Homo sapiens: one gene and its partners. The protein of the gene in region 1 purifies or fractionates together with the protein of each later gene. This does not show direct contact. Each region holds a gene or a part of one and is shown in the gene's direction. Other genes may lie near its edges.

What was found.
Region 2: the proteins of NCEH1 (region 1) and SERBP1 purify together in Homo sapiens (affinity purification with mass spectrometry; 2 studies listed by BioGRID and IntAct, with this or other methods). This does not show direct contact.
Region 3: the proteins of NCEH1 (region 1) and POMT1 purify together in Homo sapiens (affinity purification with mass spectrometry; 2 studies listed by BioGRID and IntAct, with this or other methods). This does not show direct contact.

What each region holds. Positions count from the first base shown.
Region 1 is NC_000003.12:172,701,063-172,708,088, reverse strand, and holds part of NCEH1 (neutral cholesterol ester hydrolase 1), read left to right. Parts: intron 1-7,026.
Region 2 is NC_000001.11:67,420,377-67,427,402, reverse strand, and holds part of SERBP1 (SERPINE1 mRNA-binding protein 1), read left to right. Parts: intron 1-1,117; coding exon 1,118-1,268; intron 1,269-2,179; coding exon 2,180-2,320; intron 2,321-2,425; coding exon 2,426-2,515; intron 2,516-3,080; coding exon of another isoform or gene 3,081-3,125; coding exon 3,126-3,203; intron 3,204-7,026. UniProt on the Homo sapiens protein: Ribosome-binding protein that promotes ribosome hibernation, a process during which ribosomes are stabilized in an inactive state and preserved from proteasomal degradation.
Region 3 is NC_000009.12:131,498,934-131,505,943, forward strand, and holds the start of POMT1 (protein O-mannosyl-transferase 1), read left to right. Parts: upstream 1-3,984; 5' UTR 3,985-4,140; exon of another isoform or gene 4,141-4,380; intron 4,381-5,255; 5' UTR 5,256-5,285; coding exon 5,286-5,407; exon of another isoform or gene 5,408-5,716; intron 5,717-7,010. UniProt on the Homo sapiens protein: Transfers mannosyl residues to the hydroxyl group of serine or threonine residues. Coexpression of both POMT1 and POMT2 is necessary for enzyme activity, expression of either POMT1 or POMT2 alone is insufficient.

The sequences.
Region 1 (7,026 bases):
GGTTCCCCATATTCCTTAAGAAGCAGCTACTTAGGATCTCTCTGACTCCTCTCAAACACAGATGCTATGTCAGAATCACCTAAGAACTGTTTAAAACAAACCAAACCAAAACAAAACACTTGATGCCCAGGTTACACCACATACCAAACTTACTTAGAATCTCTGGGAGATGAACGTTCTTAGCAGTGTTTAAGAAAAGTTCCAGCCGGGCGCGGTGGCTCACGCCTGTAATCCCAGCACTTTGGGAGGCCGAGGCGGGCGGATCACGAGGTCAGGAGATCAAGACCATCCTGGCTAATACGGTGAAACCTCGTCTCTACTAAAAATACAAAAAAATTAGCTGGGCGTGGTGGCAGGCTCCTGTAGTCCCGGCTACTCGGGAGGCTGAGGCAGGAGAATGGCGTGAACCCGGGAGGTGGAGCTTGCAGTGGGCCGAGATCAGGCCACTGCACTCCAGCCTGGGCAACAGTGTGAGACTCCGTCTCAAAAAAATAATAATAATAAAAATAAAAAACGAAAAGTTCCCCAGATGATCTTCATTGCAGCAAAACTTGAGAACCACTGCTCTATAAGATAAAAGGCATTGCTGTTGTAGACAATATATTTTCCTTAAACTGCGTGTTATATTGCATACGTGTTGCTGGAAATGAGCCCTTTTACATTAGCATGGATTAGTTTATCAGATTAGTTGACACTTTGGCCCTAAGGGGATAAAATACTAGCTAGGCAAATTTCTGTGTTATAGCAAAGCCACCATAAGACTTGAGCAGTGGAAAAGCACAAACAAAAGTAGGTCTGAGAAGGGCAGAGGTGTAATTTAGATGATCAGGCAGCAGGAGACTAGAGGAACAAAAGAAGAGAGTTTGGGGAAGTCCTGAAGGCTGATTTCCAAATGCTATGCAGACAAAGATTTTTTTTTTTAAATGGTAATCTCAGTGCAGGTTAAAATACTAAGTGTACACTGCTGGAGAAAATGTATGTTAGAACCACGTTTTTGGAGAACAGTTTGGCAATATCCATCAAAGCCTTATAAGTGTGTTTATTTTTTGACCCCGTAATCCCTCTAGATGGAATTTATGGTAAGTAATGATGGATATAGGCAAACCTCTAGCTATAAAGATGGAAACATTTTACAGGATTAAAAAACTTGTTCATCAGCACCGTAAGACAAAGAAAAAAAACAAAAACTTGTTGAACTTGTCTAAAAGCACTGCCACTTATAATAAACGTGAAGTAAAATCGAGCAATCTTTTTTTCTTTTATTTGCAGCACCATTTAAACGAATGAAGGTCGGGTGTGGTGGCTCATGCCTGTAATCCTAGCACTGTGGGAGGTCGAGGCGGGCGGGTTACCTGAGGTCAGGAGTTCAAGACCAGCCTGGCCAACATGGTGAAACCCCGTCTCTACTAAAAAATACAAAAAATTAGCCGGGTGCAGTGGTGCGCGCCTGTAATTCCAGCTACTTGGGAGGCTGAGGCAGAAGAATCGCTTGAACCAGGGAGGTGGAGGTTTCAGTGAGCCGAGATGGTGCCACTGCACTCTAGCCTGGGCTACAGTGAGACTTCGTCTCAAAAAAAAAAAAAAAAAAAGAAAAATGTAAGAACAGTAAAAGATTAAATAATGGTAAATTCATATTTGGGAATACTAGGCAGTTAAAAAAATTTAGGTTGTAAAATGTTTAATGACTTGCAAAAGATTTGTACCATGTGTTAAGCAGGAAAAGGCTACAAAATAGATCATACACTATTTATATATCAAAACATGTATCTATGTTTGTATAGAAAAAGCAGAAAGATATAATTTAAAACATGATTTTTTTCTTCTGGGCCATAAAGTTGTATCTTCAGTTTTCGTATTGGTGTATTCTAGATTTTCTACAATGAACATGTAGTAATAAATTATTTTAAAGCTTTTTTTAATCCAGGCATGGTAGCTCATGCCTGTAACCCCAGCACTTTGGGAGACTGTTGTGCCAAACCCCCATTAACCTCAGTAGTGAAGGCACCAGGTTGAAGAGGCTGAAGAAGATTCCCAGAGCCTGCAAACAAGACATGGGTTTTTTTTTTTTTTTTTTTTTTGGTTGTTGTTGTTGAGATGGAGTCTCACTGTGTCACCCAGGCTGGAGTGCAGTGGCGTGATCTCAGCTCACTGCAACCTCCACCTCCTGGTTTCAAGTGATTCTCGTGCCTCAGCCTCCTGAGTAGCTGGGATTACAGGTGCCCGCCACCATGCCTGGCTAATTGTTGTATTTTTTAGTAAGGACAGAGTTTCACCATGTTGGTCAGGCTGGTTTTGAACTCCTGACCTCAGGTGATCCACCAGCCTTGGCCTCTTAAAATGTTGGGATTACAGGCGTGAGCCACCGTGCCCAGCCAAAAATAGGGTTTTATTAGGGGCTTGCATACAAGGGAAAGAGTCCAGTGGTGGTGGGCTGGACAGAAGAACCACTTTATATATAGAAAAGGGGCATTGGCAGGAGGCTGGACAACATATCTGTCTTTCTACAGTCCAGTGGTGGCAGGCAGGGCAGGAAAATCACAACTGCCTACAAACATGTAGTTTACATAGCATTGTCACTTGACGTCTTCCCCCTAATGACTTCCACCTGGCAACCTTCATTTAACCCAAAACTCAGGGCCTCAATCCCCTGTACATCCCATGTTACATGATGGGCGGTGCTCACATGTTTATCATAGATAAAGAACAAATCACTGGGTTGGGCACTTGGGGACTCCTTAACTCAGAACACACATTTAGGTGTGTCTGCCATACAGGGTCATTCTCAGAATGTGCTTAGGTTATTGCTATCAGCTGAGTTTACAGAGGCTGAGGTGCAAGGATCACTTGAGGTCGGGAGTTCGAGAGCAGCCTGGGCAACATAGTGAAACTATGCCACCCTCCCCATCTCTACAAAAAATATCTTTCAAAACAAAAAGTAACTTTTCCCCCCAGGGATAATTTTTCTATTTCTAAAGTGGAACTGATGTGCATATGCATATCAATATATATTTTAGTATTTGCTTTATGAGAAAAATCGAATTTCTTTTAAAAAGACTTTCTGGATCCCCTGATATAGCTATCATAGTGCCATGCTTTGTGCTCAGTTACCTAGACTTAACATGGATTGAAATCCTGTGTGAAGCTATGGAGAGTCACTAAAGTGACCTAGAAGAAACCACAGTCTAGTAGGATGGAGAAGTCATGTTAATATATAGCTATTAAAAAGCTGGAAGCTGATAGGTGTAGAACAGGTGTAGTTACAAAGTCTCATAGGAGGGAGAGTCTATGTATAGTTTAGAAGAGTGATCCTCCCGCTTTGGCTTCCCAAAGTGCTGGGATCACAGGCATAAGCCAACGTGCCTACCTGTAATTGAATTTTCAAGTGAAAAACCTGACTATATTGCCTGCCTAATCTAAGATGTGTCATATTATGAAATTTTAACAAGCTCTCTTTCAGTGTTTAATAAAATTAAAACCCTGGAAGTGATCACTTATTAAATGAACACCAAGGCAAGGAGCTGGTCTGGCAAAACAGAAATGTGTAAGGCAGAAACCTAAACTTGAGAAGCTTACAGTCAAGTGAAGGATGATAAACCAACTGCCAGTGATAGGGTAGGTGCTTGAATGATGGAAGGAAAATGTGGCTAAAGGTAATAATGGTGTCCCAAGAGAGCTCGGAGCATGAGCCTGGCTTGTCTTGATTATTTTCTAACTTACTACTGCTTACACTATGAATCTTTTCAGTGACACAATGTAAAAGAAGTGCTGAAATTGGTATTTATGCTGAGTGTTCCCCCTGTTTCTTATGGGTGACAGTGCTTTTGGACTAGTTGATCAAGGATTTTTATCTTGCCAAATGTCCCCAAACTTGTTGAGATTTAATGTCACCTCACCTGAATTCTCTGTGCATGATGTGCTTTTGGGCTGTGTGGGTGTGGTTTAAATGACAGCTCAGCTGGAAACTGTGCAGAACTTCAACGTGCTAATAATCTCTTTCATAACAGTTTTGAACTGGAATATTTACTATTGTCAGGTGAATTTAACTTTAAAACATCAGTAAATAATGATTGTCCAGAAATTATGATGATGCGTATTTCTTCATGCACATTAGTAACTTCACTAACCACAATTTTTAGCTGATTTGCTAGGATTTTTCTTTAAACATATGGAGGCAAAAGGTTTTAAGAATAGTGTCAGGGGCATTATTTAATCAGTGTTAGTTCTGACAGGTGAACAACCTGAGTTGGTCTCTGCAGATAGTACCTATGAAACATTAAGGTCAGATTGATTCAGCTACCTGGTGTGTAAGATAATGCCCAATTTATAGTTTCCTTTTTATTTTTTCTGGTACTTCTACAAATATAACCCTGAGCATAGAAATACCCTCATTATTTTAATGGGACATCCTATTTCTACCATGCAATTTGAGCTTGATCTGAGACATTTCTGTGAAGTGTGAAAGTACAGTTAATCATTCTTAAATGTTCTTTTTATGCACAATTGCTTCTTTTAAAATAGCATTTTAAAATAGCATATATTTACTTTTTTTTTTTTTTTTTTTGAGACAGAGTCTTGCTCTGTCACTCAGGCGGGAATGCAATGGTGCGATCTCGGCTCACTGCAACCTCCGCCTCCCAGGTTCAAGCAGTTCTCCCGCCTCAGCCTCCCGAGTAGCTGGGATTACAGGCCCCCGCCATGATGCCCGGCTAATTTTTTTTTGTATTTTTGTAGGGATGGGGTTTCACCATGTTGGCCAGGCTGGTCTCAAACTCCTGACCTCAGGTTATCCACCCGCCTTGGCCTTCTAAAGTGCTGGGATTACAGGGGTGAGCCACTGCACCCAGCCATATTTACTTTTCTAAAGAAAATATGTAACACTGCAAATGTGTGTCATCCTTCTGCAGGGGCATGCTAGTCCTCTCTGAACTGTTATGGTTTTAGTGTATGTGCTGCTGAAGTGAGCACCATATATTTACTTTTGCTGCCAAATGAAATTATGTGGGAACTGTCTACCACTTCTCTTTCATTTTATGTTTATATAGAATGAAGAAATGTAATTGAATTTATTTTCGTTTTTTACTTTTTATTTTTTTCTTACAGACAAGGTCTTGCTCTGTCACCCAGGCAGGGATGCAGTGGTGTGATCACAGCTCACTGCAACCTTGAACTTCTGGGCTCAAGGGATCCTCCTGCCTCAGCCTTTTGAGTAGCTGGGACTACAGGCGCGTGCCACCATGCCTGGCTATATTTTTCTTTTTTTATTTTTTAGGAGAGACAAAGTCTTGCTATGTTGCCCAGGCTGGTCTCAAACTCCTGGGCTCAAGTGATCCTCTTGCTTTGGCTTCCCAAAGTGCTGGGATCACAGGCATAAGCCACCGTGCCTACCTGTAATTGAATTTTCAAGTGAAAAACCTGACTATATCGCCTGCCTAATCTAAGGTGTGTCATATTGTGAAATTTTAACAAGCTCTCTTTCAGTGTTTAATAAAATTAAAACCCTGGACGTCATCACATATTAAATATTAAGGAGCTGGTCTGGCAAAACAGAAATGTGTAAGGCAGATACCTAATCTTGAGAAGCTTACAGTCAAGTGAGGGATGATAAACCAACTGCCAGCGATAAGGTGGGCACTTGAATGATGGAAGGAGAATTATGATAGAGGCATCTGTGGATTGCTGCAAGAGCCTTGGAAAGAACATCTAAAGTGGACCTGGGCACTGGGGAAACGTATCTAATCTGAGATGTCAAGGTTGAGTGCCTATAGTAAAAATATCTATTGAGCATATAGTGAGCATTTACTCTGTGGCAGATACTGTGCTATGTGCTTTGTGTTCAATTAGTTTAGCCCATGGTAATACAATCAGGCAGGTGTTCTTTATGTGACAAAGGAGGAGACCGAAATGCAAAGAAAAGTGACTTGCTTAAGATGACACCGTTTATACGAGGTGGAGCCTGAATTCGATTCCAGCCTGTGTTACTCCTGAACTCAAGAGTTTAGATTTGTGCTAGATTTCCTTATAATAGAAACCAGAGAAGAGAAGGGTGAAAGGGGCATTCCAGCCAGAAGCAGCAGTATGTGAAAGTTCTGTGGGAGAGGATGGTGTAGCTGAGGAACTACAAGTGGTTTAGACTGGCTGGAGCTTAAAGTTCAAAGGTCAGAGAGGGAGGCAGAAGGGAAGCACCAGTCAGGTGAGGAAGAGCTCTGTGGAGGAGAAAGGAGCAACTGACAGTCTTCTAGCAGAGAAGTCACATGCTCAAAACTGTGTTTTAGAATAGTCCTTCTCAGTGGCAGTGTAGACACTGGAATGTAAGAAAGCAAAAGTAGGCCAGGCGTGGTCGCTTACAACTGTAATCCCAGCACTTTGGGAGGCTGAGGCAGGCGGATCACAAGGTCACGAGTTTGAGACCAGCCTGGCCGGTATGGTGAAACCCAGTCTCTACTAAAAATACAAAAAAAAAAAAAAAAAAAAACTAGCTGGGCATGGTGGCACGCGTCTGTAGTCCCAGCTACTCGGGAGGCTGAGGCAGGAGAATCCCTTGAATCTGGGAGGTGGAGGTTGCAGTCAGCCAAGATTGCACCACTGCACTCCAGCCTGGGCAATAGAGGGAGACTCCGTCTTTAAAAAAAAAAAAAAAAAGGCAAAAGACCATCTAGGAAGCACTAATCCAGGTGAGAGCATGAACTAACAAAGTGGGACTGATTTGGAGGAAAGCTGATCAGAGTTGCTGTTGGAGGGGAGAGTATGGAGCATCGGAGAGGAAGGAGTCAAAGATGACTCCTGGGACAGATTCTGGAATAGCTGGGTGAATGGGGACCATGACCCTGATTTGGGAGCAAGAGCAGATCTGAGGGTGAAGATATAGAGTTTGGGACCCTGTTTTGAAGTGTCAGTGGACTAGTCCAAGGATGGCTGATCATAAACAGCTGCATATACAGATCCAGAGCTCAGGAGACAGAGCTGGGCTGGTGATATGGATTTGGGAGTAGTCAGCAAATGGATAGTGGCAGAAGTAGTTGAAATGAA
Region 2 (7,026 bases), on another chromosome or scaffold:
CTTTATGACTTTGTCAGAAATTGGGAATTAGAGCATACCAACAATCTTAAAGTCATTAATTTAACCATCAATCTGTTGATCCTTATGGGCACCAATAATTTAAATTGGTTGCCTTTGTGGGGTTTCAGACATTACAGGAAAAAAGTAGTAAAGGGGGAAATTAGTAAATGCTTCAGCTATCACTTAGTGTCACAAGTTTTCTTATTTCTTACATGTTGCTTAAAAGCGGTCTTAACGTGTGTGTATTTGGTTTTTAAAGATTCTTTGAAAATAAAGATAGTTGTTAGGGCAAATTTTTTAGAGGACTCTCTCCATGCATAATAAGTAACTGTTTCCTAACTTGGAAGTACTTAGGGATGTGGGAGTGTGTACAAACATATATACACTTACATGCTATAAAATTTTAAACTTTAATAGGGGAAGATGGCCCTTTTTGTGTGCCTGTAGCTAAGAAGACCAAAAGATGACACTTTTTCTGGTTAAATGGCTGTTTTAAACTGAAGTGATGTTCTCTAATAATCCTAAATGCCATATTTTCCTTTCAGATTTGTAATTTTATAGAATTATGAGTCTTAATTGCATTTTTTTTTCAGATTAGATAGAATAACATAGTGCGGCCCTCACTTTTGTGAGGGGCCATATCTAGTGAGTGTGTTGATTTGCTTGGTTATTTATGAATGGCTGCTGGTATTTTCTTTGGTATTTTAAAAGCCAAAATGTATTGCTTGCCTAAAATTTTTTAAATTTAAAAGTTTTTATTAAGAGACTATCTTGGAAAGTGACGGGAATAATGGTTGCCCAAATGATTTCCAAGTCAGTTATAGAAAATGCTTTTGAGGGGGAGAACTTGGCAAACTTAAATAGAAGTTTAAAATAAGTTTATTGTTTTTATTTTATTTATTTATGTATTTAGTCGGTGGTATGGATTGGAAGGTTTATTGTCTTTAAATGGCAGTTTTCCTAAGGTACTTTGTTACACATTAGAGTTGCCCAGTGTTTGCTTTTTTCCAACAGGAAATGGTAGTGGATTGGAAGAGAAGCAGCTTTTGACAGTCCAGGCCTAAAGTTTTTGGATTGCAAAAATAATTTGCTTATGCAGGTTATCTTATCGTTTTAGGAATAAGACGAGTTGGAAGAAGACCTGATCAACAACTTCAGGGTGAAGGGAAAATAATTGATAGAAGACCAGAAAGGCGACCACCTCGTGAACGAAGATTCGAAAAGCCACTTGAAGAAAAGGGTGAAGGAGGCGAATTTTCAGTTGATAGGTAAGTTGTTTCTTGTTTTTGAGCCAGGGTCTTGGTCTAACATGTAGGCTGGAGTGCAGTGGTACAAGCTTGGCTCACTGCAGCCTCTGCTTCCTGGGCTCAAATGATCCTCTCATCTCAGTCTCCTCTTGAGTAGCTCGGACTACAAGGTCACGCCACCACACTGCTAATTTTTTTTGTAGAGCTGAGGTCTCACTATATATATTGCATTGGCTGGTCTTGAGCTCCTGTGCTCAAGCTGTCCTCCTGCAATATTGGGATTACAGGCGTAAACCAAAGAAGTCTTCATATTTTGTTACTTTATAGAGTCACATTTTAATGTTAAGCTATAAATTGGGCATAATTGCCAGGTAGCAGTCTGGCTAATTGTTTCTATTAATTTTTCACAGAAACATCTGTATGTGTGCATTGTTAAGCTTTAGATCTTTGGGTAACAGTTCAAACTTAGGTCTCTTGTAATGGAAACACTTTGTTGAATTGATAACCAATTTCTTTTTCTTTCTCTCTCCAGATACAGAGTTAAAAGGAAAATACTGTTAGTTGAAGGAAAATACTGTTGGTTTATTGTTTATAGCAAATAAATTACTTATGCAAGTTAGATGTGTTTAATTTTTAAGTGTATTGGTAAATAGTGATGGACTGGATTATATGTGCAATGAATAGCAGTGGAAAAGTATATGCACTGGTAGTAATGCTTTAGAGTGCTAAAATAGTTTTCTTGTTTTGGGAGGCTGTCTTGTTCTGGTTTCCTTTGTGTTTAGAAACAGACTATTTTGAATTTTCTGAAGTGTATGTATTTAACTATTGGTTTTTGAGCCAGTAAACATGTTCTGTATTTTTGATCTTTTGGATGAATTTTCCTCATTTCTTCTGGAAACCATGGAAGTATAATTTATTTGTTTATATTATAGACCGATTATTGACCGACCTATTCGAGGTCGTGGTGGTCTTGGAAGAGGTCGAGGGGGCCGTGGACGTGGAATGGGCCGAGGAGATGGATTTGATTCTCGTGGCAAACGTGAATTTGATAGGCATAGTGGAAGTGATAGATCGTAAGTCTTACTGGTTTTTATTTTACTTTAATATTTTAATCTATTTAATAAACAAACTTTGAATTTCTAGAACTAAAGAGTATTATGTTAACTCAGTTTTGTTAGTTCTTTTTCACATTACAGTGGCCTGAAGCACGAGGACAAACGTGGAGGTAGCGGATCTCACAACTGGGGAACTGTCAAAGACGAATTAACGTTGGTATTCTGATTTTCTTAAAAATTCTATACCTAACTAGAGGTTAATCCATACCTCTGTCAAATTTTACTTGTCTCTGAGATAAGAATGAATGCTCTCTTCTGAGAGTTACTATATTACAAGATAATGTCTTATGGGATGGGTTTGGGTTATAGTATATTGAATGACCGGTTTTTTAATATTTCGATATATTTGTTACTCATTTTTTCCCCCCCATATGTATTTGTAGCTTTTCCTGAAACCCCACAATAAGGTTATTTGGGTATTCTGATTATCTTAGTGTCCTTAATAGTTCCTATTCTAGCTTTTGACTTTGTTGTCATTACAAAATTTGATAAGCTAGTAAAGCTTCATTTTATAATTAACTGCCTTGTTCTGTTACTTTTTAAGTATGAAGTATATGAACTAACTAGTTTATATTGTTTACTTTTCGACGTCTTCTGGGGAGTATATTTAGTAAGAAAGGAGTTAGAGAATGTGAGAGCTTATGGTATTTTTGTATGAAGAACTTTTCAGCTACATGTAAATGGACCTAGATGCCTTTCTTTTTCTTTCTTTCCTTAGAGAGTCCCCCAAATACATTCAGAAACAAATATCTTATAATTACAGTGACTTGGATCAATCAAATGTGACTGAGGAAACACCTGAAGGTGAAGAACATCATCCAGTGGCAGACACTGAAAATAAGTAAGTGGTATTGCGTGTAATAGTAATGACCCAGAATTGAAAGCACTGGAGTTTTACCAATAAGATAACCCATAGATTTAATGCTGTTACTTGATGGCTTTTTGTTTTTGACAAGGGAGACTTACTGTACCCTCATCCCTCAAAGAGTATTTGAAAGAATGCTTTTTTTTTCTTTTTTTAATAGAGACAGGGTCTCACTATATTGCCTAGGCAGGTCTCCAATTCCTGGGCTCAAGCGTTCCTCCTGCCTTGGCCTCCCAAAGTGCTGGGATTACAGGCATGAGCCACTGCACCCAGCCCTTAAAAGAGTGGTTTATGTGTATATATTTGACTCTAACGCTTTGAAAAATAGAATATTTTAATGTGGTTATTTCTGTTTGATTAGTCATTTTACCATTGTCATACAACTGTACAAATTTTACTTTGAGATAGTTAAAACTAGAAAATGTGGCCATTTTAACATTAGTTCTATCTTGAAGTTATTTCCAATGTAGAATTTGGAACATAGCATTACTGGCCTGTTTTTAAATGTATGAAGAGAGCAAAGATCAGAGTATGTTATTCACTATCTTTTTTTTTTTTTTTCTTTTTTTGAGACAAGATTTCATTCTGTTGCCGAGGCTGGAGTGCAGTGGAGTGATCTTGGCTCACTGCACCCTCCGCCTCCTGGGCTCAAATGATCCTTCCACGTCAGCCTCCTAAGTAGCTGGGACTATAGGTGCCTGCCACCAGGCCCGGCTAATTTTTGTATTTTTAGTAGAGACAGGGTTTCACCATTTTGCCCAGGCTGGTCTTCAACTCCTGAGCTCAGGCAAGCCACCCACCTTGGCCTCCCAAAGTGCTGGGATTACAGGCGTGAGCCACCTTGCCCAGCCCTTCACTAACTTTTTTTTTTGTGTGTGTGAGATGGAGTTCACTCTTGTTGCTTAGGCTGGAGTGTAGTGGCACTGTCGGCTCACTGCAACCTCCGCCTCCCGGGTTCACGCGATTCTCCTGCCTCAGCCTCTGGAGTAGCTGGGATTACAGGCACCCGCCACCATGCCTGGCTAATTTTTTATATTTTTTAGACCAGCTGGCCAGGCTGGTCTCGAACTCCTGACCTCGGTGATCCACCCTCCTTGGCCTCCCAAAGTGCTGGGATTACAGGTGTGAGCCACCACACCCAGCCCTTCACTAGCTTTTAAAATTACATGGTGTTTTGTTTTGTTTTGTTTTGTTTTGTTTTGTTTTGTTTTGTTTGGAGACATTCTCGCTCTGTTGCCCAGGCTGAAGTAACAGTGGCGCTATCTTGGCTCACTGCAACCTCCGCCCCCTGGGTTCAAACGATTCTCCTGCCTCACCCTCCCGAGTAACTGGGATTACAGGCATGCATCACCACGCCCAGCTAATTTTTTGTATTTTTAGTAGAGACAGGATTTCACCATGTTGGCCAGGCTGGTCTCGAACTCCTGACCTCAGGTGATGCATCCGCCTTGGCCTTCCAAAGTGCTGGGATTACGGGCATGAGCCACCACGCCTGACCTAAAATCATGTTTACTTTGCCAGTTATTTGTTACAGTATTGTGGTTTAAAGTCTTGGATTACAGGTTATTTAGGACAGTGATTCCTAACCAGAAGCATATTCAAGTTAGTTGGGGGGTGGGAGGGGCAGATGTTTTCTAAACTTTTTCTTTTTTCTTTTTTTTTTTTGAGATGGAGTTTTGCTCTTGTTGCCTGTGCTGGAGTGCAATGGCGTGATCTCGGCTCACTGCAACCTCTGCCTCCAGGGTTCAAGCAATTCTCCTGCCTCAGCTCCTGAGTAGCTGGGATTACAGGCATGTGCCACCACGCCCGGCTAATTTTGTATTTTTAGTAGAGATGGGTTTCTCCATGTTGGTCAGGCTGATCTCGAACTCTGACCTCAGGTGATCTGCCCTCCTTGGCCTCCCAAAGTGCTGGGATTACAGGCGTGAGCTGCCGCACCTTAAACTTTTTCTTTTCTTCAGAAAGAATTTGCTCTTATGGTGAGCACTGTTAATGATGGGAATATCATATTCCGTGGATTTGTTGGGATAAGGAAAAATGATATACTATTGGAGGGAGTAGATAAAAATACATGGTATTGGGTGATGTTTTGAACTTGGTAATAAAAATTTATGCAAAACTATAATGGAATCATAATTTTGCATGATAAACAATGAAGTTGTGATTGGTGCCTTAACAAATGAACCCTATGCAACGTTAAGTTTCTCATAGTGGTCAACACAACTTTTTTTTGTTTCTTTGAGACACAGTCTCCTGTCTCCCATGCTAGAGTGCAGTGGCGCGATTTTGGCCATTCTGAAGTTCAAGCGATTCTCCTGCCTCAGCCTCCCGAGTACTGGGACTACAGGCATGCTCCACCATGCCTGGCTAATTTTTGTATTTTCAGTAGAGACATGGTTACACCATGTTGGCCAGGCTGGTCTTGAACTCCTGGCCTCAAGTGATCCTCCCGCCTTGGCCTCCCAAAATGCTGGGATTACAGGTGTGAGCCACCGTGTCCAACCACAACTGTTTAATAGAGCCCATGTTCAATCACTCAGTGATATGCAAAGATTATAACTGTTTACCAAAAGGTACTAATGTATTGATAGGCTATTGGTAGCAAATCCTTAGCTCAGTGCCCAGGAGCGAAACTGAGGGTGTTTGGTTTAAAGAAAATAATTATCCATCACATTAGAACTGTCTGTAATCTTATTCCAGACTAGGGGAGAATCTGGGCATAGCATATGGAAGTATAAATTTAAGAAACACAACATTGGCTGACTTTGATGAACTAACTTATATATAGCTTCCAGAGCTTCTGTTTGGTTTTTATTTAATCCTTGCAGTAATTCCTGAAAGGTAGGTGTCATGCCTCCATGATATGATAAAAGGTATGCTAAGTTCTATTCCTGGCTGTGTCATAACATATGGGTAAGCAGGACTTTTTTTATATTCTTAGATTTCTCATCTGTAAAATGACTAGGTGGACTCAGTACCCAAGATCCCAAGATCCTGTCAATTCAATATAAACTTGCTCTAGGAAGTTTTTTGTTTTTTTTTTGCAGCATAGATGTAACTGGAGGAACTTTTAAGATAGCATTTGTCAAACAGTAAAGGGCAGCATCCAGGGAGATATTTGAGCTCTAAGGCTAACTGAATCACCTGCTATCTTTGGAAAGAAGCAGGGCTCCCCAAATAGCAAATGACTTGTTTGGTGACAATTGCAGATTGAGATTATACTAAAATAATGGATCCTTAGGCCTGTGCTTTGTTTCTGTAAAAAGAGGAAAGGATCATATTCTATAGTTAAGACCTGAGAATTATATTTGGAAATAAATGGTTTAGTATTAAATAATGAAACCAGTGTGTGTTTGTGGATAGTTCTATTAGTAGTGAATCCATGGCCTCCTTTCCATATACAGGTTGGTTTGAAAATTGGAGTATAAGGATTTTAGGATTTGTAGAAACACGGCTATTGTTTTGATTTGCTCTAAGTGCTAGTTGCTGAAACAAAGCATAGAGGAACAGTTCTTTTATATTCCAAAATTTGAACCCTGGTTGCTGACAGACATCCTAGAGGATTACCTTCTTGTATGTTATTAAGAGTTACATATTGTGGGAATTATGGAAATTAAAAATGTGGTTTAGGAGAAGATAGGCTGAGGATTTTACATAAGAGGGTAGTTTTTAAACAAGGTAGTGTTTTTAAGAAATGTGTATTTTAGTATTCGTAAAGCCAGTTCTAGATTGTATTACTGATAAATGATCATTTAAGAGTTCATAAGTATGAATTCCATATTCCTTACTTGTCTCTAAT
Region 3 (7,010 bases), on another chromosome or scaffold:
GGTTTGGTTTTCTTAACTGTTGGCTTCTCCCCACAGCGTTTTTTGTTTTTTTTTAAACATTCATATTGTTTTCAAACTTGGAATTCATAGACACTCTGGCTCTAGGTTCCTTAAGGGGGAAAACAAAAGATGACTTTATTTCACATTCAAGAAAATCAGTTCAGTTCCAAAGCTGTGGTCCTTCCAGCCACTTCTAGGGACACTGGGGAACCTTGTTAAACGTTGACATCAGTGCTCTCCAGCCGTGCTGTCACCCTCCTATCTTCTGGATCTGCCTTCGCGATGGTCAGTGACAGCTTCTGGAAGCTGAGCACACACAGGTGCACAGCCATGCTGTGGTCTGGCCTGCTACGGCAGCATGGCAGCTCTGGTGGAGCCTTCTCCCTTGCCATTTGGTTCCCCTGTGCCAAGTAGCTGCAGGCTGCCCCTCAAATCTTCATTTGTCCCTTTTCACTTCCTGCAGAACAAGCCTGGGTTAGAGGGTCTGCTGGAAATGGCCTTTGAAGACCAAGGATACCAGGATGTGTGCACTCTGTCGTGTTCTGTGATGAATGGGAAACGTAGGCTTCCAGAAAGCCAGCTCTCTTCTGAAATGTGACGGACCTAAGCAGGAAGTCATCCAGGACAGGAGTGGCTCAGTGTTGGGGATGGACGCTGTCGCCCAGCCATGCTCCACCAGGGCCACCAATGTGTAGTTGGCTGGTGGTCTTCGGGCATGTGAGACCTGCTCTTCACTGTTTCCACCCCACTTGGTGGCCTCCAGGATGGTAGTGGCACCCTCAGAGCCCCATCTTCAGCATGTTCTGAAGCCTCAGAGTGGAAATTCCTGCTAAGGCTCTGTGTGGACGCCTTTCTCCCGTGATCTAAAGGGGACACTGTACTCAAGCTTTTGACCTCATGCCTTGTGTAGTAAAAAAGGATTTGGGGGTTTTGTTTGGTTCCTGAGAGGGTTGTGTTTTGTTTTTGTTTCCTTTTGTTTATGTTTTGGCCTTTCCTCTTTGTCTTTCCATGTAGACCAGATATTTGAAAGGGCAGACGATGGCTAGAGGTGTAATGTGCAGCTTGTTTATACGGTATTTTGGGAAACTTACCTTGGATGGGAAATCGAATCGTGGATTCACCAGGCCGGTGCTGGCACACTCACCCTCGCCCTTTCCCTCCGGTTCAGTACCTATTGTTTCTCCTTTCAAATATGTGATTGTACTAGCTCTTTCCATATGAAAGAATTCTCCTTATTTAAATAAAAAAAGTTTAAAAAGATAAAGCTGAACGTGCTTTCTCAGGTTGTACATCCCTCGTTTCTTGGTCATTTGACCAGAGAGACCTACAGATCAAAGAATTCTAATTTTACAGAGTTCACACGGAAATTAGGAGTGGCACGGCTGAAATGCCTTAACAGAAGCTGTGTGGGTAGAGAAGGGATTGAAACCCGTGGCTAAGAAGCATCTTCCAAATGCGGCAGCATCAAGCACTCCACCCTCTTCCCACGGATGGCATCTGGTTGTGCACAGTGCCTGCCTGTGGCCCCGTCACTTGCCGTGAGAAACGAGCTGGTCAGAGGAGGTAAGCATTTGATGTGGCGTGTTGTGTTGTCACTTCTAGCGGTGCTTTTGCAGGAAGTGGAGGAGGATTATGCTGTGCTTTGGGGTGGGGAGGGAGCAAGCCAGGCCTGGGGTAGCGAAGGGTAAAAGGTAAGAATGGGCTGAGGCAGCAGTTCTCGGTTTTGCCATTGCCTCACTGACCTGGGGAAAGACGTTTCACCACCTGAGTCAGTCTCCTTAATCATAAAACACAGATTGTAATGGTATCGACCTCATGGCGTAGTGTGGATTCAAAGTCACCAGTAGCTTTTAGCTTAGTGCCTAGAACCAGCTAAGAAAACTTATAAATTACCCCCAAGAAATAAAACGCTGTTTCCATGAGGAACCCCAGTCCCTCAACTTCCTTCTAAGCCTTTTGACTATGGAAGAGAGTTGGGGACCTGGCCATGGGCATCTCAGCTTTAACTAGCCACACTCACTGCCCTGATTTACTGCTCCCTAGGGACAGGTGGCTCACAAAATCTCAAACGGAGACCAGCCCTGAAAGAGGCTAGTCCTAAGGTTGGGGGCTTGCAAGATGGAGGCTGTAAGTCCTGAGGCACCACCACTGTTAGCATGGCATGAACCAAAGCTTAACAGCCCAGCCCCACTCCCTCCTGGGGCCCAGGGAACCCTCCCTGCCCACTGTAAATACAGTTGCCTGCAGGCTCTGGCCACAAACCCAGGTGAGCCCCAGCTCCTTGCCTCTCTGTGGGATCTTGGGTGAGTCACATAACCCCTCAAGGGTAAGCCATAAAGAAGTAACCACGAAATTCTAACTGGTGTCATCTAATGCTATGTTGCCCAACATGGAAAAAAAGTCTTGCAGGCAGCCAAGAACCATAATGAAGGTTATTAAACCTGCAGTGTGCCCTTTTGGTCTGTATAGATTAACATACAAATAGACCAGGAGATCAAGAAGGAGCGAGGCTGAGAAGAGTGATCCATCAGCCTGGTTGCGTTGCTGTCAGTTACCCTGCTCTGGGTGCCGACTGTTCAGGGAAAACATGGGAAGGGGTGCATTGACCCAACCAAAAGTACCATGTCTGCTCCAAAGCAGGCCTTTGGGAAGGCTCTTGACCCTCAGCAGAGGGGGCTGGAGAGGCTGATGGATGAGGAGGAGCCCTGGGAATGGAGGAAGAAGCCTCCAGTCTTCTGCCACGGAGTTTAGGGGAGATGCCCCCACTGGAGCCTCTGATGGTCATGCAGCCCCCACTGATGTCCAGGTTTTTTTGGTTTTGTTTTTTGTTTTGAGACGGTCTCACTTTGTAGTCCAGGCTGGAGTGCAGTGGTGAGACCAAGGCTCACTGCAGCCTCGACCTCTCTGCCCCAAGTGATCTCCTGCCTCAGCCTCCCTTGTAGCTGGGACTGCAGGCAGACGCCAAGGGGCCCCGCTAATTTTTGTATTTTTTTGTAGAGACGGGGTCTCGCTGTGTTGCCCAGGCTCTCCTGGACTCAAGCGGGCTCACGGATCCTCCCACCTCGGCCACCCAAAGTGCTGGGGTTACAGGCGTGAGCCACCGCCCCCGGCCCTAGGTCCGTTTTAAATGCCCTTACCCTCAGCCACTTCACCGCTAGATGTATGTGCAAGCAGGATCGTGGCATCGATGTTTTTCGGCAAGGAAACTAGGAGCGCCCGCGGGCGTGGGGGCACGTGCCTGTGGTCTCAGCTGCTCTGGAGGCCGAGGAGGGAGGATCGCTTCGGGCAGAGAGGTCGAGGCTGCAGCAAGCCGTGGTCCTGCCACTGTACTCCAGCCTGGGCGACAGAGCGAGACCCCGTGTCTTAAAAAAAAAATTAAGGTCGGACGCAGTGGCTCACGCCTGTAATCCCAGCACTTTGGGAGGCCGAGGTGGGCGGATCACTTCAGGTCAGGAGTTCGAGACCAGCCTGGCCAACATGGTGAAACCCTGTCTCTACTACAAATACAAAAATTAACCGGGCGTGGTGGCGTGCGCCTTCAATCTCAGCTACTCGGGAGGCTGAGGCAGGAGAATCGCTTGAACCCGGGAAGCGGAGGTTGCGGTGAGCCGAGATCGCGCCATTGCACTCCAGCCTGGGCAACAAGAGCGAAACTCCGTCTCAAAAAAAAAGAAAAGAAAAGAAAAGAAAAAAACTAGGAGCAAACTGGCGCGCCCGGCAGAACGCCGTTGTGCAGACGCAGAATTAAGATCTTCACGCCAGATGGAGTGAAAAAGCAAGGAGCAGAAGATGGGTGGGAGCCCACTGCGCTTTTTAAAATCTGCACGTCTGCTTAGAGTACACAGAAATCCTGGCACACAAAACAGTAGCACCCGAGAGAGGGGAGGTCGCCGCGTTTCACACCTGCCTCTCCTCCGGGACCGGCGCCCTCGCCCGCTGCGCACGCGCGTCACCCTCTCCCAGTGCGCACGCGCGCTGCTGCCCGTCTGGCCCCGCAGGCTCGGTGAATCGAACGTTGAGCAGGGCGGTGGGTGGTGCGGAGTGCCGAGCGGCCTCACCCCCAACCGTCGGCCCAGTCGGACGGTTCCGAGGCGTTGCCGGGAGCCGGGCGCGGCTCTGTGTGGACTCGGAGAAACGCGGGTACATTTGGGGACACCGGGGACGAGAGCCCAGCCCGGACTTGGGGGAGTCCGTCAGTGCCGGACGCGGGTCCCTGGCTTGCGGACGGGCTGGGGCCGGGGGCGTCCCCGTCTTTCCGGAGCTGGGGGCGGGGTTCGGGCCCGGGCAGATGCGGCGTTCGGGCGGCCGAGCCCCGAAGTAAGAACTCCGTGGCGCGTGCAGCCCTAGGGAGGAAGGGCGTGCTGCGGGTGCAGTCTCAGGGTGAGGACGGAGCTGGGGCCGACGCAGCCTCGGGAGTTGGTGGACGGGACAGGTGCGGCCTGTGGGGAAGAAGGGCCGGCCAGGGAGATGCGGTCTGCAAGGGGAGAGGAGGCACTCCCAGGACAGATGGGACCTTTTGGGACGAAGGCGCTCAAGGCAGATGCAGCTCAGGGAGGGAAGGGCGCGTCCAGGGTAGATGGGGCCTGAGGAGACCAGCGGGGCGCCAACGGCCAGATGCGGCTTTGGTGTGAGACAGGGTGTCCCAGGCCTGATGCAGCCTCAAGAGAAGCGGAGCTCAAGGGAAGATGAAGCCTGGAGGAGAACGTGGGGGCGCAGGGTGCAAATGCACCCTCCAGGCGAGAAAGGGAGCACCCGGGGATGATGTGCCGCTGGGATAGAAGGCAGGGAGGCACTGGGGGCAGATGCATCCTTGAGGAGAGATGAGGAGGCCCCGAGGCTCGGCCAGGTTGGGGTCCCTGGGCTGTAAGCAGCTGAGATGGCACCCAGGAGCTGCCCAGGGTCAGGTAGCTGTGGCCGCACTGTGGGCTTCTGGTCGTCGGGGAGGGAGGGGAGAAACCCTGGCGTTCCTTAGCAGTGTTCTCGCGCCCAAGACGTGCTCGGCAGGTTTTGTGGAATGAGTTGTTGAAAGGAGTGAATGTCCAGTCCTGAGATCCCCTGAATTCCCACCCGAGTTCACTGCTAGTGCCCCTCACCCCACATGTCTACCTGAACCAAGGCTCCAGGAACTTCGGTCTTTCTCAGCAGCCCGGCTGTGCTGTGGTTCTCCTCGTGTGTCCGGGAGCCGGGTGGCTGGGGATCCCTTCTGTAGCCTCTCGTGAGCCCTCATGGACCACGGCTCCTCCCTTCTTTTCTAGGGCGTCTGCCTGAGCCCGCTTTTCTACAAGATGTGGGGATTTTTGAAGCGCCCTGTAGTGGTGACGGCTGACATCAACTTGAGCCTTGTGGCCCTGACTGGGATGGGGTTACTGAGCCGGCTGTGGCGACTCACCTACCCGCGGGCTGTGGTGTAAGCTAAATGACTCCATTCCCAGGGTGAATCTAGAATTGTACTTTGTGACAGGAGGCGCCCTTACTGAATAGCATAAATGGGAGAGTGAAATCCTGGCTTCTTGGTGATAGGTGTTTTTGGCAGTGAGAGGAGAGACCAGTCTGTCCCCAGGACAGCCCCAGCAGAGTACACCTTTTAGGTCTTGCCTTCTGAGTCTGTAACAGGTGAAATTTGGCCCATTAAAGGGGTGCAGTAGAGGAAAATCTGGTTGCCAGCCTTAAGTAACAGTTTTAAAGTCTGGACGGCAGAGGATTAATGGATTTGGAAGTAAGTCTTCACTGTTGAGAGCACTTTTTAGAATGTGTTTTTGTCATAATGGGAAGTGATTGCTGTTATTATTGAAGGGCTCTTTATTAACTGATTAATGTGTGTATGTGTGTGTGTGTGTGTGTGTGTGTGTGTGTGTGTGTTTTTGAGACGGAGTCTTGCTGTGTCGCCCAGGTTGGAGTGCAGTGGTGCCATCTCGGCTCACTGCAACCTCTGCCTCCTGGGTTCAAGCAATTCTCTGCCTCAGCCTCCCGAGTAGCTGAGATTACAGGTGCCCGCCACCACACCCAGCTAATTTTTGTATTTTTAGTAGAGACGGGATTTCACCATCTTGGCCAGGCTGGTATTGAACTCCTGACCTCATGATCCACCCACCTGGGTCTCCCAAAGTGTTAGGATTACAGGCGTGAGCCACTCCGCCCTGCTGCATGTTCTTTTTTGTTTAACTTTTTATTATGGAAAACGTCAAACATATACAAAAGCAGGGAGACAAGTATAATGAATGACCCCCCCACACACACCAGTATTTTCATTACCCAGCTTCACCTTATCAGTTCACAGCCAGGCCCCTCCCTGCAGTGGTTTTTACTTTGCAGCAAATCCTAGTATTCATAGATAATTCAGCGGTATATCTGTAAAAGATGAGGATTTTTTTTTTTTTTTTGGAGACATAGTTTTACTCTGTCGCCCAGGCTGTAGTGCAATGGTGCGATCGTGATTCTCCTACTTCAGCCTCCCGAGTACCTGGGATTACAGGCACCTGCCACCACGCCTGGCTCATTTTTGTATTTTTAGTAGAGAAGGGGTTTCACCATGTTGGCCAAGCTGATCTTGAACTCCTGACCTTGTGATCCACCTACCTTGGCCTCCCAAAGTGCTGGGATTACAGGCGTGAGCCACCGTGCCTGGCTGAGGATTCTTAAAAACAAAAATCACATAACCACAGTTGCATTATCATGCCTGAGAAATTGACAGCAGTTTCTTGGTTATCTTCACCTCTCCCTGATTGAAAACATGTTATTGCAGTTGATTCCCACGTTTTCCTTTCATACTTGCAGCCGTTTCATTGGGTCATCGCTAGCCACAGACATGTGCTGCTGGTGGGGGCGGGGGTGGGGGGGTTGGGTAGGTGGGTAAGCAGGATTAGCCTTGCGTCCCAGGAGGTCTTTCAGCAGGTTGGCTCATAGTATCCACCTAAATCAAACACAAGGGAGAGACAGAATCTGTATGGGCAGGCATGCTGAGTGCCAGCTGTGCTTGGTGAATTCCCCATGTCTCTGTGGGTGGGTGATGC